Linked DNA regions of Homo sapiens. The protein of the gene in region 1 interacts with the protein of each later gene in a pairwise test. Each region holds a gene or a part of one and is shown in the gene's direction. Other genes may lie near its edges.

Region 1 (3,249 bases):
GGCTGAGAAAACGCGCAATATGCGCCTTCCCGGCCGGATCACCGGCAACCTTTCTCCGGTTGTGGTCCCACCGCCAGCGCAGAGCTCATTTACTTGCGGATTCGCTACCCAGGGGCGGCTAGTATTTTTCCTTTTTCCCCAACATGGAATGTGTAATCTGGACACTCGTTAGGCCCTGACAGAAAGAGCCAAACTTTCCTTATGCGAAGCGGCAGGCTGCACTGAAGGAGTATTCTTCCTCCCTAATTAAATTGTCCTCTAAATCGATGTCCTGCACCCATTTTTGCGCTGCTGTAGAGGACGACTTGAGCCAAAGCCGGGGTTTCTTTTTTAGCTCCCGCTCCTTTACCTCATTTATTTTCTCCGAAAGTGTTTTTCAGGTCGTGTTTCTGCCTACCTCTTCCCCACTCCCTGTCCCCCATCCAGAGTGTGTGTGTGCGTGTGTGTGCGTGTGCGTGTGTGTGTGCAGGGGAGAGGGGATGTAGAAGAAGGGAGATTGTAGACTTCTCTTAACTTTTTTAACCTCTGAGAGGCATAGAGAGGGGCAGCCCTCGAATCTTGGAGACACTGGCTTCTAGTCGCACATCTGCACTTTCTCCCACCTGTGGCCTCTCAGGCTCGGCCGCCCGAGGGAGTTTCTTTTATTCCCAGTTCGGCTTTCTTTTGCGAAGGCCGAGATCTGGGCCTGCCAGGGGCCTGCCCGAGTCCTCTATCGCGGGTCCACGTGGCCACCAATGACCCGCGGCGCCCCCGCGTGTCCCCGCAGCCACTCCGCGGAAGCAGCGGCGGGAGCGCACCACCTTCACGCGTTCACAGCTGGACGTGCTCGAGGCGCTCTTCGCCAAGACTCGCTACCCTGACATCTTCATGCGGGAGGAGGTGGCGCTCAAGATCAACCTGCCGGAGTCTAGAGTCCAGGTGCGCACTCCCCGGGCTCCAGGGTCTGGGTAGGGGAGCTGAGGCTGCTCGGGGAAGGTCTAGGAAGGCTCTTGAGTAGTTCTTGAGGAGACCATCCTGTGGGGGTGGGCTTACAGACTGGGCAGCCGCTCTCGGACTCCCCCTAGCGCTGGGCCCCAGCCAGGAAAGGGGGCAAAAGTTAAAGGAAATGGCTTAGAGCCCTGGATTCCGCCTTTAGCCCTAGGGCGCCTTCGGTGTCGGTATCGAAAGTACTTTTTAGAATTGCCGGAGGACTAGGGAAGCTCCCGAATGTAAAGCGCCCTGCGGGCCTGACACTTGCCCCTGCTTCTTCGCCTGCCCCAGGACTTGGCAGTTTCCCTTAGAGGCCTGAATTCTGCCTCTGCCCTTGTCTTCCACCCCGGGAATCCTAGAAATGGAAGAGCGGAGATTGGCTGGAGCCTGGTGCTCTGCCTGGGTCTCATTAGACGCTTCCTCTGCTTACAGAGGATGCTAAGTGCAAAATCCTGCTGCCGGCTTTCTTATTTCTGTTTTTGAGATGAAAGGGTTCCGATGATAACGTTCGGATTCTAACTCAGAACTCTCCTCAAGAGTCTCGCCTCCTTTACTCGAAAGCTTGAGAAGGGGGACCAGGAATGCAGTGCCATGTGCTGGGGCTCTCCTAGAAGAGTAACCATTCCATTTGGTTCCCCACCTGGAGCCAAAGGGCCAACGAAATCCCACCCAGGCTTCCTTCCCGAGTCCCTCAAGTACTACCTCTGTTTAGCCTCTGGCCTTGCTCCTACCCCCACCCAAATACTCGCCCTGCCCAGTTCTGGCCTCCAGGAGCTGCTCAGTGAAACGGCTCAGGCCCTAGACTTGGTGACTGTTCCACACTCTTCGGCTCTGTACCTCTCCACTGTTGCCTGAGCTCTGTTAGTAGAAAACTGGGCCTCCAAACACACACGGGGCCTCCAAACATACACGGAAGCAGCCAACAGCAGCAATTTAGAGATGGCAGAACTTCTGACTGGGCAGACTGAAATATTCCGCCCTAGGGCAGAGTTGCGGTAGGGGTGGGGAGGTGCGCATCCCTGCTCTGGAGCCAGCTGAGGAGGGGCTTTGAGCAGAAGGATGGGGGAGGGTGGAGGAGCTGGGAACCGAGGTAGGGGGCAGGGTCTGGCCAGGCCAGAGACAGGAAGGGGCGGAGGCCTCGGTGAGAAAGGATTGCGATATTCTGGACCGGGAGTTGGGTCCGCGGGGCGGTGGAGCAACAAGCTCCCCTAGCTCCCTTTGACCCACTCTCCCCCATCCGGCCCACTGCAGGTCTGGTTCAAGAACCGCCGCGCCAAATGCCGCCAGCAGCAGCAGAGCGGGAGCGGAACCAAGAGCCGCCCAGCCAAGAAGAAGTCCTCTCCAGTGCGGGAGAGCTCGGGCTCCGAAAGCAGTGGCCAATTCACGCCGCCAGCTGTGTCCAGCTCTGCCTCGTCCTCTAGCTCGGCGTCCAGCTCTTCCGCCAACCCAGCGGCTGCAGCGGCTGCGGGACTAGGTGGGAACCCGGTGGCGGCCGCGTCGTCGCTGAGTACACCAGCTGCCTCATCTATCTGGAGCCCGGCCTCCATCTCGCCAGGCTCAGCGCCCGCGTCCGTGTCGGTGCCGGAGCCATTGGCCGCGCCTAGCAACACCTCGTGTATGCAGCGCTCCGTAGCTGCAGGCGCCGCCACCGCAGCAGCCTCTTATCCCATGTCCTACGGCCAGGGCGGCAGCTACGGCCAAGGCTACCCTACGCCCTCCTCTTCCTACTTTGGCGGCGTGGACTGCAGCTCATACCTAGCGCCCATGCACTCACATCACCACCCGCACCAGCTCAGCCCCATGGCACCCTCCTCCATGGCGGGCCACCATCATCACCACCCACATGCGCACCACCCGTTGAGCCAGTCCTCAGGCCACCACCACCACCATCACCACCACCACCACCAAGGCTACGGTGGCTCTGGGCTTGCCTTCAACTCTGCCGACTGCTTGGATTACAAGGAGCCTGGCGCCGCTGCTGCTTCCTCCGCCTGGAAACTCAACTTCAACTCCCCCGACTGTCTGGACTATAAGGACCAAGCCTCATGGCGGTTCCAGGTCTTGTGAGCCCAGGAATGAAAGAGGAGAAGAAACGCAACTACCTGCGCCCTCCGTGGTCCCGATCCTGTTGCTGCTGCTGCACCGCCCGCCTTTGCCTCGTCTTCTCCAAAACTGAATTTTCACCCCCCAAAAAGATGTCCATTGCCTGCACTGCCGCCCCCATTTTTGTGCCACTTGCTTGGGGGGATGTGCAAACCCACCCTGCCCCTTGGATGGGGG
Region 2 (4,498 bases), on another chromosome or scaffold:
TGATGGGGACTGAGCCACCGGCAGACGACAGGGACTCTGCTGGCTGCAGAGCTGGCCCCTGGGTCCTGTGGTGACCTCCCCTTCCGGGGAGCCCCGCCCTAGGACTTGAAGCCCCAGCAGCCTCGAAAGGTGGGGAGGGAAGTCGGCTCCTGGGCTCTCACGCTGGCCCCGGCACTGGCTGTTTCTCAGCAAGACTGTCCCAGCACCCTGAGACACAGTCCCAGGCGGGTAGGGGTGTTGGCGGCCTTGCTGTGACAGCTCGGCCTCCCCAGACAGGTGGTCAGCTAGGGTGAGGGGCTTCCTCTTACCCTCAGGACAGGCGAGTCAGGGTTGGTGGGACCTGAGTCCACACCCCAGCGTCCTCACGCACTTTCCGAGCCTTGGGTCTCCCTTGTAGCCTGGGAGCTGCTGTCCGCCCTTCCTGTGGTGCCTGGGCCTAGCCAGTCTCCCTCCAAGTGTCTGTGGGGTGGGGACCACGGGGGTCCCACAGAGGGCTTTGGGAGCCACGGTCCCCACTCCCCTCCCTTGCCTGCAGCCTTTCGGTGAGTGGGAAGCGCCTCTGCTGCCCTGAGGTTCCCTCTGGCGCCCTGGCCCGGGGACCGCGGCCTCGCTGTGGAATGTGCTGGGTAACGCCGTCTGGCGTCGTCTTGTGTCCCCATACAGGGCTGGAGTACCAGAGGCCGAAGCGTCAGACCTCCTGTGACGACATCGAGGTGCTGTCCACCGGGACACCCCTGCAGCAGGAGAGCCCCGAGCTGTACCGCAAGGGCACCACTCCCTCCGACCTGACCCCCGACGACAGCCCCCTGCAGAGCTTCCCCACCAGCCCCGCGGCCACCCCGCCGCCCGCGCCCGCCGCCAGGAACAAGGTCGCCCACTTCTCGAGGCAGGTGTCGGTGGACGAGGAGCGGGGCGGGGACATCCAGATGCTCCTGGAGGGCCGGGCCGGGGACTGCGCCCGCAGCAGCTGGGGCGAGGAGCAGGCCGGGGGCTCCAGGGGTGTCCGCAGCGGTGCCCTGCGCGGCGGCCTGCTCGTGGATGACTTCCGCACCCGAGGTTCGGGCCGCAAGCAGCCCGGGAACCCCAAGCCGCGGGAGCGGCGGACGGAGTCACCCCCCGTGTTCACGTGGACTTCCCACCACCGGGCCAGCAACCACAGCCCCGGAGGCTCCAGGCTGCTGGAGCTGCAGGAGGAGAAGCTGAGCAACTACCGGATGGAGATGAAACCCTTGCTGAGGATGGAGACGCATCCCCAGAAAAGACGCTACAGCAAGGGCGGCGCCTGCCGGGGCTTGGGGGACGACCACCGCCCCGAGGACCGGGGCTTCGGGGTGCAGAGACTGCGGTCCAAGGCCCAGAACAAGGAGAACTTCAGGCCGGCCTCCTCCGCGGAGCCCGCCGTGCAGAAACTGGCGAGCCTGCGGCTGGGCGGGGCCGAGCCCCGGTTGCTGCGTTGGGACTTGACCTTCTCCCCGCCCCAGAAATCCTTGCCTGTCGCTCTAGAGTCCGACGAGGAGAATGGGGATGAGCTCAAGTCCAGTACGGTGAGTGGGCGGCCACCAGGCTGGTCCCAGTGGAGGCAACATCCACCTCTCTGCTGACCTGGTGTTTCCTGAGGGTTTCCAGCAAGGTCACTGCTCCCCTGTTCCTCTCCAGGGGTGGAGTAGGGTGGGGGTACAGCCGGGAGTGGTGGCCCTCAGGTCGCTGGGACCCTCCCCTAGGAAGCCAGGTGGGGCAGGTGTCATACCTCTTTCCGTGAGAGGCTGCCCCCAGGTTGTCCAGAAAGCACACGAAACTCCTGGTTTCCAGGCAGCATGGGATCCCTGCGCTCCCCGCAACGTGCTCAACCCCAGCTGCTCCAAGAGTCTGTGCCCCTGGTCAGTAGCCTTGGGCCGTGAGATGACCGCTTGAGTGTCCTGTGTCCTGGATAGGAACCCAGAGGCGAAACAGCTGGGGGCAAGGCTGGCCCTGGGGCTGGGAGTCAGGTCTGGGGTTGGGGGGAGCTGCCAGTCCAGGTTTCTCTCACCCATGGGGGGTGTTGGGGTTGGAGCCGGCTCCCACGTGAGGCCCGCTGTGTGCAACTCACCGTCAGCCTCACCCAGCACCCCCCCCCCAAATTCGTTCCTCCAGGGCAGGCAGCTTGGAGGGAAGAACAGCGTCCCCCTGGGCTAGACTCGGCGCGAGGCTGGGGGTCCCAGGCTAGACTCGGTGTGCGAGGCTGGGGGTCCTGGTGCCTCACACAGGGCTGGCCTCCCCTTGAAGGGACCTTCACTCTGCAAATCCCACCCTGCTCCCTTGACCAGTGCTGCAGGAATGAAGGGCTTTGGGAATGAAGGGCTGTGGGACGGTGGCTACATAGGATCTGCGCACGGCCAGGCCCTCACCCCAGCAGGGCTCTGCTCGCTCGTGGCTGCCAGGCAGTGCGTGGTGCTGAACAGAAGTGCTGCAAGCCAGTCTGCCCCTCGGGTGTGAGGACGCAGGGGGGTGTCCGCAGGGGGCGCTCAGGGCGTGTGGGCCGGGCAGGGGGGACCATTGGTAGGTTTATTGTCGACGCTGCGGCAGGGGTCGGTGTCTGTCCCTGCCCCTGACCTAGGGGAGCTGTGGTTTTCTCCTCCTGCCAGCCCCACCCCCAGAGGGGTCACCGCGTGACACCCCTTTGAAGGGGCACGTCCTGCCGGGCGGCAATGCCTGTTTCTGCCTCTCCTTGGAACCACTGCGGACGTCTGTCTGTCCTGTTGGGTTCCTAAGATGCCTCCCCGTTCCCCAAAGCCCACAGAGAACAGCCCCTATGCTCCTGCTGGGACCAAAATACCAGCTCACACTTACAACTTGATTTTCCCCATCGCAGCCGGAGATGTGTGCGTGGCTGTGCGCGCGCGGTTATTTTAGGAACAGCCAAGCAGTGGGCAGGGTGGGAGGTGTAGGGACGGGTTCTATTTTTAGCCTGCTTAATGCACTGACACTTTTGGGTGCTTTTAAATGAACCTCCCTGGGGGTCAATGCACAAGCTGGGGACAAGTGCCAAGCTGGCCTCTGGGATGAGTTAGCGACACGCAGGGTGCTACATGCTGCCCTGGTCCTGCCCGGTCTCCAGCTGGGGCTAATCTGGAGGTCCCGTCAGCTGCAGCATCATGTCCCACCCACCCTGGAGGATGCCAGCTGAGCTCCTTGGAAGTGGCCACCCTGGGGTACCTGGTGCTGGTGCAAACAAGGTTTCCCTCCCTGTCTCCCTCCCCGTCTCCCTCCCCACAGCTTTGGAGCTGTGTTTTCTGCCAGGTCTGTGAGGGGAGATGGTGTGTAGAGGCGCGGTCAATCCTAAGCACTGTTCCAGGCCCTGTTGGTGGGAAGCAGGAGGGGCCCGTGCCAGCCGGCATCCATGTCAGGGGACAGGTGTCAGGGCAGTCGGGTGCCAGGCTGGGCTGAGTGCCTTCAGTGCCACCCCCTCACAGGGGTACAGCTCTCTGCAGTGTCTCCCCTGGGCCACCAGCAGGGTCTGGGGTGCTGTCTTCTGGCCATCCCCCTCCACCATTCCCAACATGCTGCAGAGCTCACACGCCAGAGGCCCTGGGTCCCACTGGCCACAGATGGGCCTGGGATTCTAGCCCACATAGGGTCCCACTGGCCACAGATGGGCCTGGGATTCTGGCCCGTGTAGGGCCCTGGCAATTCAGGGTAAAGTCCCTTAGGATGGAAGCACAGGTTCTCCCTACCGCTCTACTGGTGAAGGAACTCTGGCCCTGGCTGTTTCCCTCTTGGTGAAATGATGGATATGACCTGATGGTGGGGTCCAGGGTTGGAGGATGGCTGGGGAGACAGAAGCTTCCCTCCTGCGGGCAGCCACGCCCTCGCCCACAGCGTCCGTACCTGCTTCCCGGCCCAGAGCACGGGCTGGACTGTGGCAGAAGAGGTGCCACTGACCACCCCACTCTGTCCTGCTACCCCACTACAGGCTGACTAGCATCCGGCCCTTCCTCCTCGCTGGGGTGGGGGAACTTTGCACCAGGGGTGGCATCAGTGGGCAGGGCTGGGCCCTTGGCTGTTCTCTGCCCCCTGCAGGCTGGCCCGGCCCAACCAAGTTGTCATGGGGCCCAAGACTCACAATACACCTGCCTGAGGCCACGATGCCACGGAAAGCTGGGCTCAGGGCAGCTTGCTTTCTCTCTGGCTGAGTGGAGGCCCTTGCTGTGTCCACAACTCCACTTCCATCTGCGCCTCAGGTCCCTGATAGGCTGGGAGGTTGCGGAGGGTGTGGGCCTGGTGCTGCTGTGGCTGCAGGTGCCCCCTAGGCAGCACCTCACCCTCTGAGGACCCTCCTCTCTGAGCTGCATCCCAAGGACAGTTTACAAAGCCCTTTGCTGACTGGGGTTCAGCTTATCTGTTGAGCAAACTTTTTCTTTAAAAAGTTTCTTGGCCAGGCACGGTGGCTCACACCTATAATCCCAGCACTTTGAGAGGCCGAGGCAGGTGGATCACCTGAGGTTATCAGTTCGAGACCAGC
Region 3 (3,544 bases), on another chromosome or scaffold:
GTTTCTTCTCTTCTGATTCTGCTGCTCACTGTCATAGCCTTTTGTGTATAGTGATGTGTCTGTATCTTTAATGTAAATAGAGAGATGATGAAAAAAGAGTCTATTTTAGTGTTAGGAAGCCCCAGCAGGGGAGTCGGAAGAGCTTGGAAGAGCTGGGGAGAGGGTAGGGGAAAGGTTTTTCCAGGGGCCACTGGGTTTGAGCCCTGCTTCTGTGCACAGCCACACCACCCTCTCCCGACAGCCCTCAAAGACGTAGCAACTCTTTCTCTCAAGGTGCTAAAGGACTCAGAAGGTGCAGCACGTCCAGTGGGTAGGTACTTGTTGCATGCAAAAGCTGTAGTGTATCTGGTCCTTCCTCCCCAGCTTTTGTGTGGGGTTCTTGCTTTGTGTGGTATTTTGTTTTCCCCTCTAATGAGAGGGCATGGCCTGAGTCAGAAGAGCTACCCCAGGTGAAACTGGAAGTGCATGAGGCAGAGCGTCCGTAGCATTTCCAGTTTGTTCTGTATAGGAACAGAGGTGCCTCCGGGAAGGAGGCAGCGAGGTAGGTAGCTATGATAGGCACCTAATGCTTCTCAAGGACTTATTTTTTCCTTCTTGAAGACTAGTAGTAACATCTTATGATTTAGAGTAAGTTGATTGTAACCATAGGTATTTATTGATTGGAGGAAGGGAGGGTCATATTATTTTCGGCTTTATTTATGTAACATTTGCTAGCTTGTAAAAGGCGAATGTGAAATATTGCATCTGCATTTTCCAAGGCTGATTCGTGTAGCTACCCTTGCCACAGTTGTGACGGATGTATGGATGTTCTTGAACATTTCAGAAGGAGTGGTAGAAAAAAACACACATTCAGCCAACCACTTATATGAATTGAATGTATCAGAAGTGTACTGAAGGGACTGGAGATGGTTTTCCTCAGATGAGGGGGCCCCAAAATTGATAGTGCACATCTGCACGCTTTCTGCGAGGCCTCAGAACTTCCCAGGGCCCCTCCCTCAAATTGTCTCCATGGGAAACTTGACCCAGTGGCAAGTTGCACTTTGGTGATCTTGGTGGTCTACACACCCGTTCTGTGGAGAGTCGATTTACATAAGCTGTGTATACACACACACACACACACACACACACCCCTACCCCACACTGACTGTCTACCGACAAAGACCCTATTTCCTGGCAAACGGCCTCCTGAACCCTGACTTTTTGTGTACATACTTGTAAACACGGATTTTTCTGGGTTTTGGTTTGCTTTTTCCTTTTTTCCCCCTGCCCCTGTTCTAGCTTGTTCTTCTTGGTTTGCTTTCAACCTGCTTGATGGATGTCTGCAGAGTGCTCTCTAAGAGTCCACCTCAGTGCCTCGTGTGCTCAGTGGTCATGGGAAAGGAGCGAAGGAACCATCCTTGGTTCTCCCAGCTTGGTTGTGTAGCAATCCCTCAGCATTGTTTTTCTCAGCTTCTTGGCAAAAATTAAAACAACAACAACAACAACAACAACAACAACAAACAGAAGGATAAACTGGCTTGCCTGTGGACCCTCCCCGGCTCTGGGGCCAGTCGAGAGCCACTGAGGGACCCAGCACTCAGAGACACAACACACATGTGTAGCTGCTTCTGGCTGAGTGTGTTTCCTGTCACCAATGGCCTGTTTGGCTGGACGATGCCTCGGCTTGACCTTTTTTGAAAAGTGCTGGTTAGTTCCCGCCCCTGGTAAACCTGGGGTAGGTGGGGGTTCTGTCTTAACTCGAGGGGCACCTGGGATCCAGGACGCTTCTAGGGGGCTCTGGCTGCCCGTGTTAATGAAGGACAGCGCTTCCGCGAGCACCCTGGGAACTGGGTCTTGGGTAGCAAAGCCCTCCCAGAGAAAAGATTGGGCACAACTAAGGCTTTCCTGAGCAGGAAGGGGGTGAAGACCAATCCCTTCCTTTGGTCCTTTGGTACGCACCCCCTCAGAGCTGAGATGGAAGACATGGCTAGTTCTTTTCAGCCTTGTGGAGCCTGTCAGTCGCCATCATACCTCGAGTGAGGCCCAGCTAGATAATGACTTGTCCAAGATGGCACACGTGGAAAGTTGATCTGCACCAGAACCCGGATGACTGTCACCTTGAAGCATCCTGTTCTCCTTCTGTGCTGTCCCAGGAAGTGTCTGGCGGGCGTGGGCAGCACAGCTCTACACTGTACGATTCACTAGGGCATCCTGCGAGCCTCACTAGCCTTCTGGTTCATGCCTTTGACAAGCATTTTTGTGCCCCCTCTGCTTACTGTGACAGTCGATGATGAATCTTGCGTTGCCATTTTCTGCTGTGGGTAACTGCGTGCAGTGTCTTGCCTTGCTTTCTCTTCTTACTGTCCCACAGCTTGGTTTCATGTTACAAACAGAAAAGCTCGAGGCTCCCACCCCGCCACATCCCAACTTCATTTCCCCCTCACTGTAGCCCATTTCCACCCCACCACAAAGTTGCCACAGGTTTTCTTTGTATAGAATATTTATTTTGAAGCTCTATTTTAATAGTATTTATTTTAGAAAGTCTACTATTGTAAGAGTTCTTCTGTTTGTGAAGAAAAAAACAAGTTAAAAACTGAATGTACTGATTTAGAAAATATATATAAATATATATTGTTAAATATACACGGGACTGCCGTTTCTGGTGTGTTTGTGTGTTTACTTCCCTGACCTCTTCAGCCAGCAAGGCCTCAAGTTTGAGAATAAGCAGCCACTGAAAGGGGAAGAGAAGATAGGGCTTCCTGGGCTGGGCAATCCCTTCTCCCAGCTCTAGGACGACCGTAGAACCATCGGAGGAAAGCTGCTCTTCATTATGAAGCGGAATACTGCAAGGAGCTGCTAGAGCCTCCTTCCTGGGAAAGCTGTCCCCTAAACTGGAGTGTGCTGCAGATGGACAGCAAAGCTCCAAAACTGGGAAGAGGTAGAGGGGGAAAAGTGTCATCTGACCTGTCCATTCCTCTCCCTTTATGTCCCGATTGCCCCCAAAGCAGGTTTTCACACACATGAACACACAACATACATGCTTCAAGGAACTAAATAGAAAAGCCCTTGGTCATTTCCGTATTTTCACAGGATTGGTGCATATTGCACAAAACTAGTCCTTTTAGCCTCGAAAGCCTTCCATCCATTTCATGACCTTCTAATGTACCTTCCTTCTGTTTTTTGTTTTGTTTTGTTTGAGACAGCATCCCAGGCTGGAGTGCAGTGGAGCGATCTCACTCACTGCAACCTCCACCTCCTGTGTTCAAGCGATTCTCCTGTTTCGGCCTACTGAGTAGCTGGGATTATAGGCACGCACCACCATGCCCGGCTAATTTTCTGTATTTTTAATAGAGACAGGGTTTCACCATGTTGGCCAGGCTGGTGTCAAACTCCTGAGTTCAAGTGATCTGCCCGCCTCTGCCTCCCAAAATGCTGGGATTACAGGTGTGAGCCACCGCGCCTGGCCAGCATCTTGCTTCTGATTCCCTCGTACCCCCACCCCTGACCAGGGCACTCAAACTTTAGACCCAGCCACTTCTCAATTTACATAGCTATGGGAACTTTT
Region 4 (4,498 bases), on another chromosome or scaffold:
TTTTTGTTGTGTAGCACAGAGATACTCCTGAGAATAACCCTGATACTCCATTTGATTTCACACCAGAAAACTATAAGGTATGGCTAAATTAACATTATAATTAATTTACCAAATAGGTAATATTTTCTAGATGTATAAAATGATGTTCTTTCTTTTATACAGAGGATAGAGGCAATTGTAAAAAACTATCCAGAAGGCCATAAAGCAGCAGCTGTTCTTCCAGTCCTGGATTTAGCCCAAAGGCAGAATGGGTGGTTGCCCATCTCTGCTATGAACAAGGTACTGGATTCATTTTTGCCTTAGTTCTAAAAGAGAAGAGATTGTGTATGATAATTTCCTTTTATAGAAATTACTCTGATCATCTCCAGTGTCAGAATCTAGGATTTTGGAGCCCTTTAGCCATTTGTATGTTTCCTTGAATTGTCTTTGTGTTTTTGTTCATTCCCTTAATGCATAGAGGTGATTTCTAACCTTGCAGGAAATAAGGAAGGCATTATGGTGAAAGAGGGTATGTGTTTTTTTTTTTCCTTTTGAAGGAAATGGTCAAAGATAAAAGATTCCAAATGTGTATAACTTAGTGTCAAGATATTCTGAAAATTAATGTAATATTTAAACACTAGAATTACAGAAAAGAAGATCTGCTCACTAGTATGAAAATTTTTAATATTTTACATCTTTGGCTGTAGGCTGTAAGAAAAATCTGTATAATAGGTGATATTTATACAATTTGATTATGCTACTTTGGAATCAACGACCTATAGAAATGCTATGGATGACCCATTTTATTCAAAGTTACTCTATTCATATAATATTCATTTTTCCTAATAGTTTTGAGCAGTAATACAAATTTCAAGTTTATTCGTATCCTGTTAATACAAATAACTACATTTGTGTGGTGATGTATTACAGCATATCATTTATAAAGTGCCATACACAAACCACATACTATTTGATTCTGATGAGAATCACATAACCATTAAGCTGTGTTATATAATGGAAAATATTTTTGACTTAGAACTAAGACACCTGATTTTTCTCTGAACTTCCTCATTGGCAATGAAAGTTTTGAACCAGGTAGACCTCTTCTAATTATTAAGTTATGATTTCTGAGCGGTAGTGCTAGGACTGAATTCATTTCTAAATCAGTGCATTTTCTACTTGACTGACTATAACAGAGATTTTGTTGTACTTCATTCTTACCACTTTCTAAACTTAATTTGGTTATAACTCTTAGGCTAGACAATCATCTTTCTGAGAGAATAGGAATGTCCTCAATTTATCTAATAGAATCCTAAATGCAAATTTTAGATTTAGTTTATTGATATTTTATTTTATTTGCATTGTATAGTACTATAACACTGGTTTTTCCCTATGAAAAATATTATAAAGCAAGTTTAGTGAGTTACTATCCTGAGTAAACATAGGTGGTTATTTCTTCGATAAATTATGTATTTCTTGGGAAGTTACTTAACATTTTTTTAAATTAAAATAGCCAACTTTATAATGATTTAGGTATATGTTTCTAATTATAATGTTATTATTTTGAAAAAATCATATTTTTAGTAATGGTAAGCCTGTTGGAAATCTTGCTGAGTGGCACGTTAGCAGAGCAAAATAAAAATAAATAAGAAACTGAAAGTGAAAACATTTAAAAAATAAGACAGGCATGGTGGTGCATGCCTGTAGACCCAGGTACTCAGGATGTTGATGTGGGAGGATTGCTTGAGCTTAAGACCAGCCTGGGCAAGATGGTGAGACCCTATCTCTTAAAAAATATGTATTTATATATTGTCCTATTATATTTAGGGTTGGATTTGTGTGGGGGAAAGGCAGGAAGTGTAGGGTATAGGGAATAGACTCAAGATTCTTTGCACTTTACATTTGGGACTTTTATTTTAATGTTACTGCCCCTCCCCCCAACCCATGAAACACCTAACCTTACAACAAAAAATATCCAGAAGCTTAATAATTATTTATTTAACCGTCACTAAGGTGTAGGGAGATGTGCAGAATTCCAGGAAGGAGTCTTTTCCTAATTAGACAGTCAGAGCCTCATTCCAGATTTATTATTCCTTTGGTAGGGTTCCAGCATGTATATTTTGATAGAGAGCTCCCCAGATTCAGGGATACGTCCTTGATTCAGAACTGCCGAATGAAATAGCACAATTACTTTATCTGTCACAAGTGAGCCATGATTAGATGTCTTTTGAGAATATATTTCCTTTAGAATTCCTAATATGAGAAAGTTAACATACTTGTCTGAAATGCCCGCTCTTCTTTTATATTAGAATATGGATATATCTATAATTTTTAAGAATGCCAGATAGTAAGTCTTAATGATAATAGGTCACCTAGAAAGTTGTAGACAGAATTATAAATCACGATAGACAAGGACCAGCCCTGGCAAACAGCTAGAAATCCTCGTTTTCCCTAACAGACTTGCCCTAAGAAAAGATGCTGAGTTAGTGATCCCCTTAGTCCTGAACACCAGAATGTCAAAACAATTGTTTTCTATTAATGTCTTGACGTGAAGGGTTAGAAAGTACTAGACTATATGATTCAACTTTCAAAAGAGTATTGTGATATGAAATAGAAGTAGTGTGCTGGATTCTGGGAGAGGAGTGTGTGATTGTGTATGATAATATGTGTATACATATATGTAGAGATATAAAATTTTGAGTTTACATATTTAAAATATGGGCCAATAGTGAGCTTTGATTTTCAACCTTTTTTTCTGTTGCTGTACCATTTGTATGTAGGCTGTTTGGAAAAAATTGGTGAGAGTTTAAAAAATCTAATTGCTTCTTTTATTGGGGTTTGGCCATCAATTTTTTGCCATTTAGACAGATTATAAAATGTGAGTTGACATGATCAAAGTAGAAATTCTTAATAGTGAAATACTTAAAGATTTAGAGAAAAAGAATATCCTTTTACAGAGGTGAGAAGTAGGGTAGAAGGAGGAAGTGCTGTTAACTCCATTAACTTTCGGGCTCTGTATGGTTTAAGTGTAAGTACATTGTCTGCAAAAATTGAAGAGTTTATATCTCCCAGTTATCCAAGACAAGTATGTTTTCTGCTCTTGAAGAACTTTTCTGTTTTTACCAAATTGAGACAATATTGAAATTATACTTTGTACAACATAATTAAAGCTCCATTACTAACACTGTAATTATCTTATTTTTAAATGTCCTAATATTTTAGGTTGCAGAAGTTTTACAAGTACCTCCAATGAGAGTATATGAAGTAGCAACTTTTTATACAATGTATAATCGAAAGCCAGTTGGAAAGTATCACATTCAGGTCTGCACTACTACACCCTGCATGCTTCGAAACTCTGACAGCATACTGGAGGCCATTCAGAAAAAGCTTGGTAGGGAATACATGATATTTGTAACACTGATAAAAAGTAGAATTGTCTCTCTAGATTTGGTACATTTCTATCTAAAATTTCCAACTTCTGCCATCTTATTGGATCTGTACTTACCTAGTAATATTTTGTGTTACTGTGTTTCCACATCTTTATTTCTTCCTATTTGGTATTCTTCCTCAGTTCTTAGTGTTAAAGCTGAGTTTTTAATTTTTTCTTTTTTAATCAGTATGTTTGAAATGCTTGTAGAAGTTATAAAATATTCGTTGTTTAGAAGATTGTTTCACTTAGAAAATTGTTTCACTTACTATTCTATGACAGCATGTGGTATATTAAAAAGTGACCCATTATTGTCTTTATATTCTTCTAAAGAAGTCATGGAACAAATAAGATACAAGCATAGTAAGAATGCTTTGGGAAGGGAAATTTGAAACAGATGTTATTACAGTAGCATTTGAAAAGTAAATTAGCATTTTAAAAGTAAATGGGCATTTTCCCCTACAAAACTGCCATTGCTACACTTCTAACTATATATGTCAAATGAAGTAATATTTTGTTATTGAATATAATATGTGCATGTTGTAAAAATAGCTGGGTGGTATTGAAATATATAAAACAGCTGAAGTTGGCTCAAACCCCCCCACCCCCAACACCATCAAGGTATAAATCCTGATAACAATTGGATATATTAGTTGTAGATTTTATATCATTTTAATTATTAAATATATAAATGTACTACATGTATGCTTGCTTTTTAGACTTTATTTTGGCTGTATTTCTACAGCACAATATATATGTCTGCCTCATTTTTTTTTTCTGTTTTTTTGAGTTGAGGTCTCACTTTGTCACCAGGCTGGAATGCAGTGGCTGGATCATGGCTCACTGCAGCCTCCAATTCCTGGGCTCAAGTGATCTTCTGCCTCACCCTTCCAAGTAGCTGTAGCTATGGGTGCATGCTGCCAAGCCCAGCTAATTGATTTTTGTTTGTTTTTGTAGAGAGGGGTCTTGCTATGTTGCCCAGGCTGGTGGTTGTGAAATCCTGGCCTCAAGCAATCCTCCTACCTTGGCCTCCCAAGTGCTGGGATCACAGGTGTGAGCCACCATGCTTGGCCTGCCTCATTTTTCTTTTAC
Region 5 (4,498 bases), on another chromosome or scaffold:
TTCTATGGTAGGTTCTGGATGAGGCCCTGTTAAGATGATCGTGAGATTATAGAACTCACTATGGGACTCTTCCTCTAAGCACAGAACATTTGTTAACTTGAGGCCAAAGAGAGGGCTGCTGGCCTCAACCAGACTTTGCAGATGTCGCCTGAGAATTGTTCTATTTGATTCAAAAACATTTGTTCTAGGCATTGTGTACAGATGTAGAGATTCAGAGGAAAATAAACATAATCCCTGCCTTCAAGGTGCTCAGGGTCTAGTAAACAAATAATTGTTGTGTGAGAAGGACATGAAATAATTGTGGTACGAGAAAGATAAAAATGAGGTGCTATTCCCAGGCAAGGATGGGGTGCCAGATTTAACTAATGAAAATACAGGATGCCCAGTTAAATTTGAATTTCTGGCACACAATAATTTTTATAAAATATGTCCAGTGCAATATTTAGAACCTATTTATACTAAAAACAATTGTTCATCTGAAAGTCGAGAAACTGCCACTAAGCAGGTCAGTGTGCCTTCCAAAAAAGAAAGGACAAAGTTATTCCTATCTTCTTTGTGATCCAAGACTTACTCTTCTTTATATCTCCAGGGAATACACATTCATGAGTATAATTTTATTGATATTAAAAGGAGAAAGAGAATAAAAATACCAAGACTGCCTAGAGCTGCTATCTTACCATATAACCATAAGGGTGTTCTTTGGAATCAGGGTCGATTACATCTTAATCAGGAATTCTTTAGAAGAAGAAGAAAAAAAAAAAGTCCATTCATTTCAGCTTTTGAAAAGAGAAATTTATGACAAAGATACAGGAAGTCTCATGAGACCACTTCTAGGATATGCATCTGATCTGATACCCAAGGGAACTGGAGAGTCATCAGTTTCTCTCCCTCTCCCTCTTTCTCTTCTCTTCCTCTCTCCCTGCTTCCTTCTCTCTCTCACTCTCTCATTCTCTTTGCTTCTCTCTGGATCTGCACCATTTTTGGCTAGCCCTTAGTTTCTGCTCCCTTAAATTCAGCTTGTATATGGTTTTGAATTGTCATGGCCCAACCCCTGTGTGACCTTAAAGCTCCAATGCCCAACAGCATCTGACCAACCATACTCTGTTTCCTTAGTAAAATGTTCGAGGAAAAGAATCCGAGTGGTTGCTACCTCTAGTAATAAAGGCAAAGCAGGAGTAAGGGTGGTCAGTATACCAATAGCAAATCTCCTAGGGTGGGACCACTCATCCTGGTTGCCAGCCCCAGGGGGACATGCTTTACCTCATAGAGTCCAGCACCCATGGACACACACACACATACACATACACACACACACACACACACACACACACACACAGAGAGAGATAGAGAGAGAGAGAGAGAGAGGTCAAACCTGGCACAGGAAGGATGTGAGATGGGGAAGCCTGCTAGCCACTCCTCCTGCCAGCCTCCAGCCAATTACACTGCTGCTCAGTTGCCCCAAAGCCCTTCTCATTCTTGATACCCTTCTCTTCAGAGCATGGAATGCCCGTGGCTGCCCCACATCCGCATGTCTCTTGACTATGGATTTTTCCTTCCATCTAATCTCATCTGCCTTCTCAGTTTTTAGGAATTCCTCAAAACTGTCTTGCCCATGAAGGGCACTCAGTACTGTTGCTAAAATATATGTAATCTATTATTTTCAGATGCCAGGGAAAGAACGGGTGGAGATACCAAAGTATGTCATCAGTCTACCATCTCAGTCCCTCTTGGCTTTTCTTAGGTAGAGGCTTTTGTTGCCCTTCTGAAATTATGGACTCCTTGAGAATAAAATTCACATCTAATTCATGGTTCTTTCTCCCACAGTGCTTACCACAGCACTTTGCATATAGCTGGTTCTTAATAGTTATTGAATGAGTATATGAGTGAAAATGTGACCAAATAAATGAACAAATAAGGAATGTCTAAATTAAAGAGTGAAGAAATAAATTGATAAAATTAATAATTACAAAGTACCGTAAGATGCCTGAAAGCTGTTAAGTGTTTTATACAGTCAAAAAATAGCATTTCCCTTGAAATTGTGTTTATGTGATTAATTTGCCCTCCCTGTAAGAGAAGGAAATGCATTCCAGTCCCTTTCTTTTTAACACAATATCTAAATGAGCAGAGCCCTAATTAATGAGGTTTTCTGAAAGCTTCATTTTTATCTGACTTGAGGAGCTGCAATATAGATTTTTCCTTCAGAAGTAATTCTTCCTCCCTTCTTTGTGGTTATATTAGCATTCCAGAGGAAACACTGGTTTCCTTAACATTTGTCATGATTTGCATAAGTAAAGCCTTCAATACCAAATGAAAATAAGATGTGTGTTTGAATGACATTTATAAAGTTTCATAAAAGTAATGACTTCATTTCTTACCTATAAAATCAAAATTTTTTCCTTGGCATCAGTTCTATGCAGGTATTCCTGAAAGGTTTCACTTAAAATGTTGCAATGAGGCAGCAGGATCATTTCTTATCCAAAATGCAATATTTCTATCACACGTATTTTTGTTTTAAAAAGTGAAATAACACCTTTTATATTTTATTTGCATAGTCTAGGACTTGATTTTTAAGAGATTTATTTGGTGTGTAATACATGCAGCAAGAAAATTAACTTTAATGATTTTGAAAGGTCCCATTTGAAGGTCATTTTTATGTCAGATGGGGTATATTCATTATCACTAATCATCCCAACCACTGGGAAAGGAGGAAGTGATTGCTTCCATTTTACAGATAAGAAAAATGAGGCTGTAAGAAGCAAAGTGTCTTCCATTTTACAGATAAGAAAAATGAGGCCTCATAGAAGGATGAGTTGAGTGGACACCTTGGTCTGTATCCAAGCCCACAGTCCTTTGTTCCCCTGCACCATGCTCAAATGGAACTAAGTCTGGAACAGGGTAGGCTCAGCCCTGGGGACATAGTACTTTACTCTGGGAGAATGATGTCAAAGCCAACAGCAGGGAGAGCTGAACTTTTATTTTTTGAAAGTCAAGATTACGCATTGAAAAGAGCATTGTATTTGGTCTTGTGTACCTGGATTCAAGTCCCAACTCCACTAGGCTCAGGTCCATGAGGATAGGTGTTGGTCTTACACACCCTTCTGTGCCCATGGTCCCTAGCTGAAAGCTTCTAACATCAAAGAGCCTAATTAATATTTTTGAAGGGTAGAGAAATGTGTTTTTAGGTAAGTCATGTACGTGTTGACCTCAGTTTCTTCCCCTGCTCTTCCTCTGGTCCTCAATATATCTGTTGACCATCATACCCATTTCTGAAAACAGTCTCCTTACTTTGACTCACTGTCTCCCTCTGACTTTATATCTCAGCTGACTTCCATGAAAGCTTCCCATGACAAATCTAACTGCCTATCTGTGTATTAGTTTCCTATTGTTGTTGTAACAAATTAGTAGTTTAAATAATACAAATTATTTATTTCCTTACAATTCTGAAGAAGTCCAAATGGGTCTCACTGGGTAAAATCTGTGTCAGCCATATTGCATTCCTTCTGAAGGGCCTGAGGGAGAATACATTTCCTTGCTTTTTCCAGCTTCTAGAAGCCACCCGCATTCCTTGCCTCATGCCCCTTCCTGAATCTTCAAAGCCAGCAACATTGGGCTGAGTTTTCACACTAGCATCTCTCTGGTTCTGTTCCACCTCCATCTTCCACCTTGAAGGTCCCTTGTGACTGCTTTGAGCCCACCTGATAATTCAGGCTAGTCTCCCTACCTGAAGACCAGCTGGGCCAGGTGCAGTGGCTCACACCTGTAATCCCACCACTTTGGGAGGCTGAGGGAGGAGAATCTCTTGAAGCCAGGAGTTTGAGACCAGACTGGGCAACATGGCAAAATCCTGTCTCTACTAAAAATTAAAAAAAAGTCAGCTGGGTGTGGTGGTGTGCGCTTGTCATCCCAGCTACTTGGGAGGCTGAGGCACGAGACTCGCTTAAGTCTGGGAGGCAGAGGTTGCAGTGGGCCAAGATCAAGCCACTGCACTCCAGCCTGGGTGACAGAGTGAGACTCCATGTCAAAAAAATAAAAAAAGACCAGCTGACTAGCAACCTTAATTCCCCTTTGCTATGTGTGTAACCTAACATATTCAAAGGTTCTGGGATTGGGACATGGACATCTCTGGGGTCCATTATTCTGTCTACCACAATCTGTAAAGTGGATGTCCTAGGTTACATCAGACTTGGAGGTAAAAATTCAAGCCCAACAATAGTTACAAATTGGTAATTTTCTGGGTCTTTCCCTGTTAGCTCTTCAGGAAATGCAGCAACCCCTGTCCCCAACCATCCTCTCAAAGCCCTTCTCAGTCTGCACTGAGAGTCATCCTCGGTGTCTGATGGGGCTGAGGAAGTAGTCCTGCCAGCTGCCCTGAGTCTCTGCAGTGCTGCTGTCTTCCTATTCGGCCTGTGCTCCTGCTGAAACCCCAGCCACACAGCAGGACTGCCTGGCCATCATGAAATTCCCTTCCTGATTTTTCCTCTTCCTGCTGCAGACTCTC
Region 6 (3,500 bases), on another chromosome or scaffold:
AGTGGCTTTTTTCACTTAACATAATACAGTCAGGGTTCATTCATATTGTAGCATGTGTCAGAATTTCCTTCCTTTTTAAGACTGAATACTATTCCCTTGTGTGTACAGACTGCATTTTGTTTATCCATGTATCCATCGAAGGACTGCGTCCACCTTTAGGCTATTGTGAATAATGCTGCTATGAACACAGGTTTACAAATACCTGTTTCAAGTCCTTGCTTTTAATTTTTTGAGGGTATATACCTAGAAGTAGAATGGCTGGATCACATGGAAATTCTATGTTTAGTGTTTTGGGAGTCATCATACTGTTTTCCATAGAGACTGCACCATATTTACACCAACAGTGCACAGGAGTTTCACTTTCTCCACATCCTCCCTAACGCTTGCTCTTTTCCATTTTTTAATAGCCTCATGAGTGTGAAGTAGTAGAGATTTTGTATTTTTATTTTGTTTTTATTTTTTGAGACAGAGTCTCGCTTTGTCTCAGAGCGTGTACCACCATGCCTGGCAAATTTTTGTATTTTTAGTAGAGAGACAAGGTTTCACCATGTTGGCCAGGCTGGTCTCGAACTCCTGACCTCAGGTGACCTTCCTGCCTCGGCCTCCCAAAGTGCTGGGATTACAGGCATGAGCCACCACACCCGGCTGCTTTTGTATTTTTAAAGCAATCTTGCTGGCCACAATCTTACTGGATTAAAGCCTGTGCGTGGCGAAGGGCAGAGTTGCAGACTCCCAGAGCATCACTGTCTTGTGCATGGCAGAACTGAGCCCAGGGTGCGTGACTCCTCCTCCTGTTTTCCCGCGGGTTTCATTTTCCCTGGGCTGTGCAGGTTCCCCGAGTCCTTTCCTCCATCAGGACCTGCTGGCAGCAGTTCCCGCAGGCCACACTCTTCAGGGGACAGGGCCACCCCAACCCATCCACTGATGGGGGATTTTCACACATGTGGACTCAATGCTCTGGTTCAGTGACTTCCTGTGACACCTTTCTTTGGTGCCACTCAAAGTGCCTCACATTCTCACTTTCTTTTCCTTTCACTGTTTGAGGGCATGATGATGGCTTATTCACTCTGTAATCATGTCAGCATAAAGATGTTCAAAAGTCAAGCACATCTCGCATAAAGAATAAAGACCAAGGAACTGGTTAATACCATAGTGGGAGGTTTTAGCTTTTTTGGGGGGTGGGGGGAGGACAAGGTCTCGCTCTGTCACCCAGGCTGGAGTGCAGTGGTATGATCTCAGCTCACTGCAGCCTCAAACCCCCTGGGCTCAGGTGATCCCACCTCAGCCTCCTGAGTAGCTGGGACTTTAGGCGCGTGCTATCATGCCCAGTTAATTTTTTTTTTAATTTTGTAGAAATGGGGTTTCACCATGTTGCCCAGGCTTGTCTCAAACTCCTGGGTTCAAGCAATCCTCTTGCCTCAGCCTCTCAAAGTGCTGGGATTACAAGCGTAAGCCACCGCACCTGACCTTAGCTTTTTTTTTTGAAGCAGCCAAACCCTTTATTAAAAAGTGTGATCTAACACATGATCCCAATGCAGGAGGCAAGTAGAAGAGGTGTGGTTCTGCTTGGGTGGTCGCGGTGTCTGGAACCACCATGACCTCCCTGGAGCACACCCCACCCCATACAAGCCCAAGGTGATATCACCGTTACACGTCACGGGCCGCATGCGACCCACACTCCCCTAGACCTGAATCTGTCTTGGGCATTTATATTTGACTTTTCACCTCCACAGGATACTCACTGTTACCATTCTGGCTCTCTGTCTTCCAAGCCCTGGGAATGCACAGGTAAGATTTTTATTTTTAAAAAATATCTACAAGCGTATTAAAATCCGGGGTGAGGGAGTCCAGCCTTGCGCTACGGAACCCTAGGTTTGTGGGGGTGGGAGTGGCTTTACAGTTGACCTCATCTGAGCTCTTCATTCTCAGAGGTTAACAGTGGAAGCTCAGAGAAAGTGAGACTTGGCCCAGGTGACATGACTTGTAAGTGACAAGGCTGGGGCTGGTACTCAGTTTCCTGACTCCCAGTCCAAGACTCTTTTCTATTTTATTATAAGTTCTAGGGTACATGTGCAGGATGTGCAGGTTTGTTACATAGGTAAATGTGGGCCATGGTGGTTTGCTGCACCTATCAATTCATCACTAGGTATTAAGCCCAGCATCCATTTTTAATCAGATCACATGGCCTCATTTGTGCCCCTCACAGCAGGCCTCAACCTACCTTCAGTGTTGAAAAGTAAAATATGCTGTAGTGTTTCTGGGCAATGGCACCTGAGGACCCCCACGGGTCTGCATGTGTTGCCACAGACACACCCCTCCTGGAGGAGGTGGGAGAGGAAGTGGGTGTTACCCAAACATCCCAGCATGTAGTGTTGCATAATTCAGCTCCAAACCTAGGAGGGCCCATCCCTGGGCTGAAACCCCTCAGAGGAGTAAGAAGGGGGTGGGTGAGGCCAGGCTCAGGGCCTTAGGGGTTCTGGAAGAAGCTTGCAGCATCCTGGACTTTATTTTAAGCAACAGGAGAGATGGACCCCTGTGTGTCAGCCCTGAAATGTGGGCAGATCCCTCCTGAAAACTCCGAGTGGCCTCTCTGTGTCTCTGGCTCAGGAAAGAAGTGAGAGAAGCCCTATCTCTGAGCAGGCTGAGGGCTGCAGGCAGGTAGGGGAGCATTTTCTCTCTTCATATTAAGAATTTTGAAGCATATTCAGGCCACTGGCAATGGGAAGGATTTTGGGAGGAGTAACAAAGAATTTTAGACCTTGCGGTTTTCTAAGGCAGCCTCATGGTGTACACATGAAGACAGGTAGGCCCCAAGGGCAGAGGTTCAGGGTCGTGTTTACTGCACTTTAGGCACGTTATATAGATTAACATACATCGTCCTTACCACCATTTTGAACTACGTACATACCCCCCCATTTTACAGATGGGGAAACTGAGGCATAGAAAAGTTACGCAGAGAGTAGGGGCTAGAGTGAGAATTTGAAGCCATGCCCTGGTCCAGCAGTCTTGAACCTATGCCAGTCCTTGACAACCAGGGCTGGAACCTGGATCTCCTGGCCTCCCAGCTTCCCGGCACAGCTTCCTGGCTCGTCTGTTCCACTTCCTTTGCCCCAACTCCCTGGGACCCCTGAACCCTCTCCCGGGAGTGCAGGCCATATACATCATCTCTGCAAATCAACCAACAGCTCAGCGAAGCCCAACCTCCGAAGCTGTAGAAAAGGCCAGGGATGGGAGCTCCTAGAAAATGTCAGGCCCTGGGGTCTTCCTGAAGAGTCCACCCAACACATTTTTTTTTTAAGTACATACATTTGTAGCTCAAGTTGTATGTAAAAGCTACAACCCTCTGGAATTGTTGAGATCTATCTCTTTCTGGAAGCATCTTTATGTCGTCATCTTGCTGAGGTTGAAATGGAGAAATTTACTCAATTCAACTTTTCTTAGAAAACTGACCACATCTCTGTGTAGCTTTTATTTATGTACAGACATCAAAATCAGGTAGA
Region 7 (4,498 bases), on another chromosome or scaffold:
CATCCTTCGAACAAGCAAGGTTAGGCCTGCAACTGAGCATTTCAAGACAGCTCTGTTCATCACCTCCTCCATGATGCTGGTGCTTCTGCTCGGGGCAGCTGTGGTAGTGTGGAAGAAATCTCGTGGCCGAGTCCAGCCAGCAGCAAAGGCCGGCTATGAAAAACTGGCCGACCCCAACAAGTCTTACTCCTCCTATAAGAGCAGCTATAGAGAGAGCACCAGCTTTGAAGAGGATCAGGTGATTGAGTACAGGGATCGGGACTATGATGAGGATGATGATGATGACATCGTCTACATGGGCCAGGATGGCACAGTCTACCGGAAATTTAAATATGGGCTGCTGGATGACGATGACATAGATGAGCTGGAATATGATGACGAGAGTTACTCCTACTACCAGTAAACAGGCACTCCCCCACCAACACCACCATTCCACTCTCAGGCATGCCTGTGAGCATCACTGTTTTTGGTTTTATCCCCACACCAGGCTGATGTGTGAGTTTTTCTATTTGTCTTCTTTAACCATGAGTCCAACCAGAATATGTAAGAATGATGAAATACTTTGTTCTTCTTTTGAGTGGCTAAACTCAATTAACAGTTCCTGTTCAACCGTAATTGAAGAGCAAGGATAAAATTCAGAGGCATTTTCCTCAAAATAATGTGTTAAGACACAAAAATGAAGGAAGTGAAAACAAATGAGATTTGTACAAACTCTTCTATGTGATTTTAAAAAAAGGACAGCAGATCTATAGAAATTCTGTTTCCGAGCTGCATTGTGGAGGTGTCTGCTGCCTCCTGGTATTCTAATTTTTCTTTATCTAATTTTGGGGATAATGGAGGTACAAAGGAGTTGTTGGTTTGGTGGTGTTTTTCTTCCCTTTAGCTGTCTTTAGGCAGAAATTTGTTTTGTAAGGGCCAAGAAAAGAGGGCTCTTATCAATTGACTCCAGGCCACCCCTGGTGAGCAGAAGAGACCACCTGGGCTGGGCTGCTCAGGACCTACTTGAGATAAGGGAAGAAAAGAGAAGGTGCATCATAGCTGAGGAGCCATGAGGTCACCCCAGGCCCTAGTTCCTCCGCAGGAATCCAGAGTCACAACAATTCTAAAGGCAGAGCAAGCCCAGCGAGAAAGAAATAACTGAATTTCCAGGAACTGCACTCTCATGATTTTCTGGGTACTTTTCGCCTGGGAGACATCAGCTAAGACATCGAATAATAAAAGAAAAATGGCAGTGTTAACCTAACATAAAATGGAATAAAATGACAAACACTTCATCCGCTCTAAAAAATTCAGAGCTTTCCTTCATCAACAACCCATCACAAAACCGTGGACTCTCAATAGAAAGAGTTGGAATAGAGTCTAACATGGAAAAAAAAAAATCCCAATATGCTGCTCACAAGCTGTACTCTAGCTGCTGACCAGCCTTCCAGCACTGCTCATCACTATGATTTTTGTTTCTAGACTTCCTAGGCTTCCTTTTTTCCATTCTTCTGTCAAGTGTATTCTTGGATTCATGCAACTGAGGACAGTTTTTGTCCAGATTGTAACACAGAGAAGGGCTCTTGCTATGCAAAATGATGTTGGCAGGGTCTTACAGATTTCCTTGTCAAAATAGACCTTACAGGCAGTACTAGAAATGGAGCACCAGAAAGCAAAAATGACATTTTCAGAGAATGATGATAATTATAATCTATTGCACACCTACTACCAGATAACAAGCTAAGTAATTCCCCCCCAAAAATGCCCCACTTATCCATTTTGGTACTTACCATACTCCCATGAGGTTGGTATTGCTATTATTCTGTTCTTGTAGGAAACCTGAGGCTTACAAGAGGTTAGGTAACTAGTCCAAGGTCATGCAAAGCTCAACAAAATTCAAGAAAAAAGAATGATCACCCTAAAGCGTGTGTTCTTATAACTATGCTACTGAAATAAGGTGGGAAAATAAGCATCCTAAATATAATTAAAGTCATGCCTATTGTTTTAGTCTATAATATCAATGTTATCTTTACTAAATTCATGGATTTTCTTTTTTTAACATAATGTATCACTGACACAGAAAATCTTTATGAAGAAGTCTTCAGTTTACTAAAGGCTTGTGCTTCTTTAGAGGAAAGCTCTTAAAACAGGGTTGACAAACAGTCTCTGGAAAGAGCCAGCTAGTAAGTACATTAGGCTTTCTTGGCCAGAAAGTCTCTGTCATAACCACTCAGCTCTGCTATTATAGCATGAATGCAGCTGGTACATAACGGATGGGTGAGCTGTGCTTCAATAAAACCTTATTTATGGACACTGACATTTGAAATTCAGGTAATTTTCACATATTATAAAATTTTATTCTTCTTTTGATTTTTTTCAACCTTTTAAAATTTAAAAATGCAAAAGCTATTCTCAGTTCACAGCATTACAAGAACAGGTGGTGGGTCAGATTTGGCCAACAGGCTGTACTTTGCTGACTTTATCTTTAAAACAGTTTTCAGAGATCATACATGTACATGTATGATATGCCTCCAAAAATTTTGATCATTTAAAATTATCTCCTTGGCCAGGCGTGGTGGCTCATACCTCTAATCCTAGCACTTTGGGAGACTGAGGCAGGCAGATCACCTGAAGTCAGGAGTTTGATACCAGCTTAGCCAACATGGTGAAACCCCATTTCTACTAAAAATACAATAAAAATCTGGGCATGTTGGTGCACACCTGTAATCCCAGCTACTCAGGAGGCTGAGGCAGGCAAATCACTTGAGCCCGGGAGGCAGAGGTTGCAGTGAGCGGAGATGGCACCATTGCACTCCAGCCTGGGTGACAGAGCAAGACTCCATCTCAAAAAATAAGTAACTAACTAACTAACTAAATAAATAAATAAATAAAATTATCTCCTTGCCAGGACTGCTGGCTCATGCCTGTAATCCCAGCACTCTGGGAGGCTAAGGCAGGAGGATTGCTGACCCACCACCTGTTCTTGAGCCCAGGAGTTCGACATCAGCCTTGGACAACATAGTGAGACTCCCGTGTCTACAAAAAATTTAAAAATTAGCCAGGCATGGTGGCAAGTGTCTGTAGTCTCAGCTACTCAGGAGGCTAAGGTGGAAGGATCACTTGAACCCGGGAGGTCGAGGCTGCAGTGAGCTGTGATCTTGCTATTGCACTTCAGCCTGAATGACAGAGCTAAGACCCTGACTCAAAATAAATAAATAACATTATCTCTTCAAAATGTATCTGAAGCCCTGATAGTTCTACTTTCAATTCTTAGAAACATATAAAAATATATGCATGATAGCCATCATATCAATGGAAGACTTTCTCACCTCTGTGGTTGCAGTTAGCTTACAAAAACGAGCAATTTTGCTTATACTGTGTTGTTCATCTTCCTTGTTAATTCTAAAGCTCTGATAGACTGAGTTTGACATTTCTTTCTGTAAACTGGAAATTGTTTTCTATGAAAAAAAAACTCTATGATACACAGTTAAAGATTGGTTGAGGTTGAGATGAACTTCAATACTAAGAAAAATTGTGGTGTTCCTCTGTGTGGCCTGCAATGAAAAGAAGGCTCATGCTTGTGTATTGAGGTTTGACATCTTTCCTTCTTTGTTTTTAGTCATGCAACGTCATTCTTAGATGGCTTTTGAATACTATGCTAATGACTATCTAAATAGATAAATATGTGATTGGAAAACAAAGTCACCTTTTAGTTTTCTACTTGGAAATATTAAGAGAATCCTTGTAGACTGGAAACACACCAAAAGGCTGGGTAAAGCATGGGAGGTTCCAGTTAATAGAAAGTAATTTTAAAATTGGAAATAAAATTAAATCAAGACCAGATAATGCTATGGAGACTTACTTATTAAATAACTTTCTGAGCATTTTTATGTGCTTAGCATTACATTTTCCAAGTAAGAGATACACAACAAGAGTGCTATTTTTTCTTCTTTTTATCTTCCTACACTCAAAGACCAAGCTAGCTTTATCAATTCTGAATTTTCTCTCCTAAAAATCAGCTCAATCTGTCTTTCTGCCTCATCAGCACTGCCTCAATCTAAGGGAGGAAACCACCCCTCATATTGTCTTATGCCCAATTTCTGCCTCCAAAGAAAGAAGAAGTAAAAACTAAAAGGCAAAAATGAAATCCACAGGCAGACAGCCCGGCGCTACGCCCTGGGCCTGGCAGTTAAAGATCGACCTCTGACCTAACCGGTTATGTTATCTATAGATTCCAGACATTGTATGGAAGAGCATTGTAAAAATCCCTGTCCTGTGCTGTTTCGTTCTGATTACTGGTGCATGCAGTCCCCAGTCACGTACCCCCTGCTTGCTCAATCGATCATGACCCTCTCACGTGGACCCCCTTAGAGTTGTGAGCCCTTAAAAGGGACAGGAATTGCTCACTCGGGGAGCTCGGCTCTTGAGACAGGAGTCTTGCCGATGCTCCTGGCCGAATAAACTGCTCCTTCTTTAACTCGGTGTCTGAGGAGTTTTGTCTGCGGCTCATCCTGCTATA

The links.
Region 2: the proteins of OTX1 (region 1) and JPH3 interact in binary tests that used the Homo sapiens proteins (3 or more experiments, as listed by UniProt).
Region 3: the proteins of OTX1 (region 1) and SPRY4 interact in binary tests that used the Homo sapiens proteins (3 or more experiments, as listed by UniProt).
Region 4: the proteins of OTX1 (region 1) and NDUFV2 interact in binary tests that used the Homo sapiens proteins (3 or more experiments, as listed by UniProt).
Region 5: the proteins of OTX1 (region 1) and TRIM42 interact in binary tests that used the Homo sapiens proteins (3 or more experiments, as listed by UniProt).
Region 6: the proteins of OTX1 (region 1) and FBLN5 interact in binary tests that used the Homo sapiens proteins (3 or more experiments, as listed by UniProt).
Region 7: the proteins of OTX1 (region 1) and PCSK5 interact in binary tests that used the Homo sapiens proteins (3 or more experiments, as listed by UniProt).

What each region holds. Positions count from the first base shown.
Region 1 is NC_000002.12:63,053,281-63,056,529, forward strand, and holds part of OTX1 (homeobox protein OTX1), read left to right. Parts: intron 1-651; exon of another isoform or gene 652-766; coding exon 767-918; intron 919-2,220; coding exon 2,221-3,036; 3' UTR 3,037-3,249. UniProt on the Homo sapiens protein: Probably plays a role in the development of the brain and the sense organs. Can bind to the BCD target sequence (BTS): 5'-TCTAATCCC-3'.
Region 2 is NC_000016.10:87,688,983-87,693,480, forward strand, and holds part of JPH3 (junctophilin-3), read left to right. Parts: intron 1-663; coding exon 664-1,544; intron 1,545-4,498. UniProt on the Homo sapiens protein: Junctophilins contribute to the formation of junctional membrane complexes (JMCs) which link the plasma membrane with the endoplasmic or sarcoplasmic reticulum in excitable cells.
Region 3 is NC_000005.10:142,309,520-142,313,063, reverse strand, and holds the end of SPRY4 (protein sprouty homolog 4), read left to right. Parts: 3' UTR 1-2,634; downstream 2,635-3,544. UniProt on the Homo sapiens protein: Suppresses the insulin receptor and EGFR-transduced MAPK signaling pathway, but does not inhibit MAPK activation by a constitutively active mutant Ras. Probably impairs the formation of GTP-Ras.
Region 4 is NC_000018.10:9,119,312-9,123,809, forward strand, and holds part of NDUFV2 (NADH dehydrogenase [ubiquinone] flavoprotein 2, mitochondrial precursor), read left to right. Parts: intron 1-14; coding exon 15-77; intron 78-162; coding exon 163-279; intron 280-1,953; exon of another isoform or gene 1,954-2,145; intron 2,146-3,201; coding exon 3,202-3,370; intron 3,371-4,498.
Region 5 is NC_000003.12:140,691,228-140,695,725, forward strand, and holds part of TRIM42 (tripartite motif-containing protein 42), read left to right. Parts: intron 1-4,498.
Region 6 is NC_000014.9:91,941,195-91,944,694, reverse strand, and holds part of FBLN5 (fibulin-5 isoform 1 precursor), read left to right. Parts: intron 1-1,733; coding exon 1,734-1,788; intron 1,789-3,500. UniProt on the Homo sapiens protein: Essential for elastic fiber formation, is involved in the assembly of continuous elastin (ELN) polymer and promotes the interaction of microfibrils and ELN. Stabilizes and organizes elastic fibers in the skin, lung and vasculature.
Region 7 is NC_000009.12:76,358,520-76,363,017, forward strand, and holds the end of PCSK5 (proprotein convertase subtilisin/kexin type 5 isoform 3 precursor), read left to right. Parts: coding exon 1-403; 3' UTR 404-4,456; downstream 4,457-4,498. UniProt on the Homo sapiens protein: Serine endoprotease that processes various proproteins by cleavage at paired basic amino acids, recognizing the RXXX[KR]R consensus motif. Likely functions in the constitutive and regulated secretory pathways.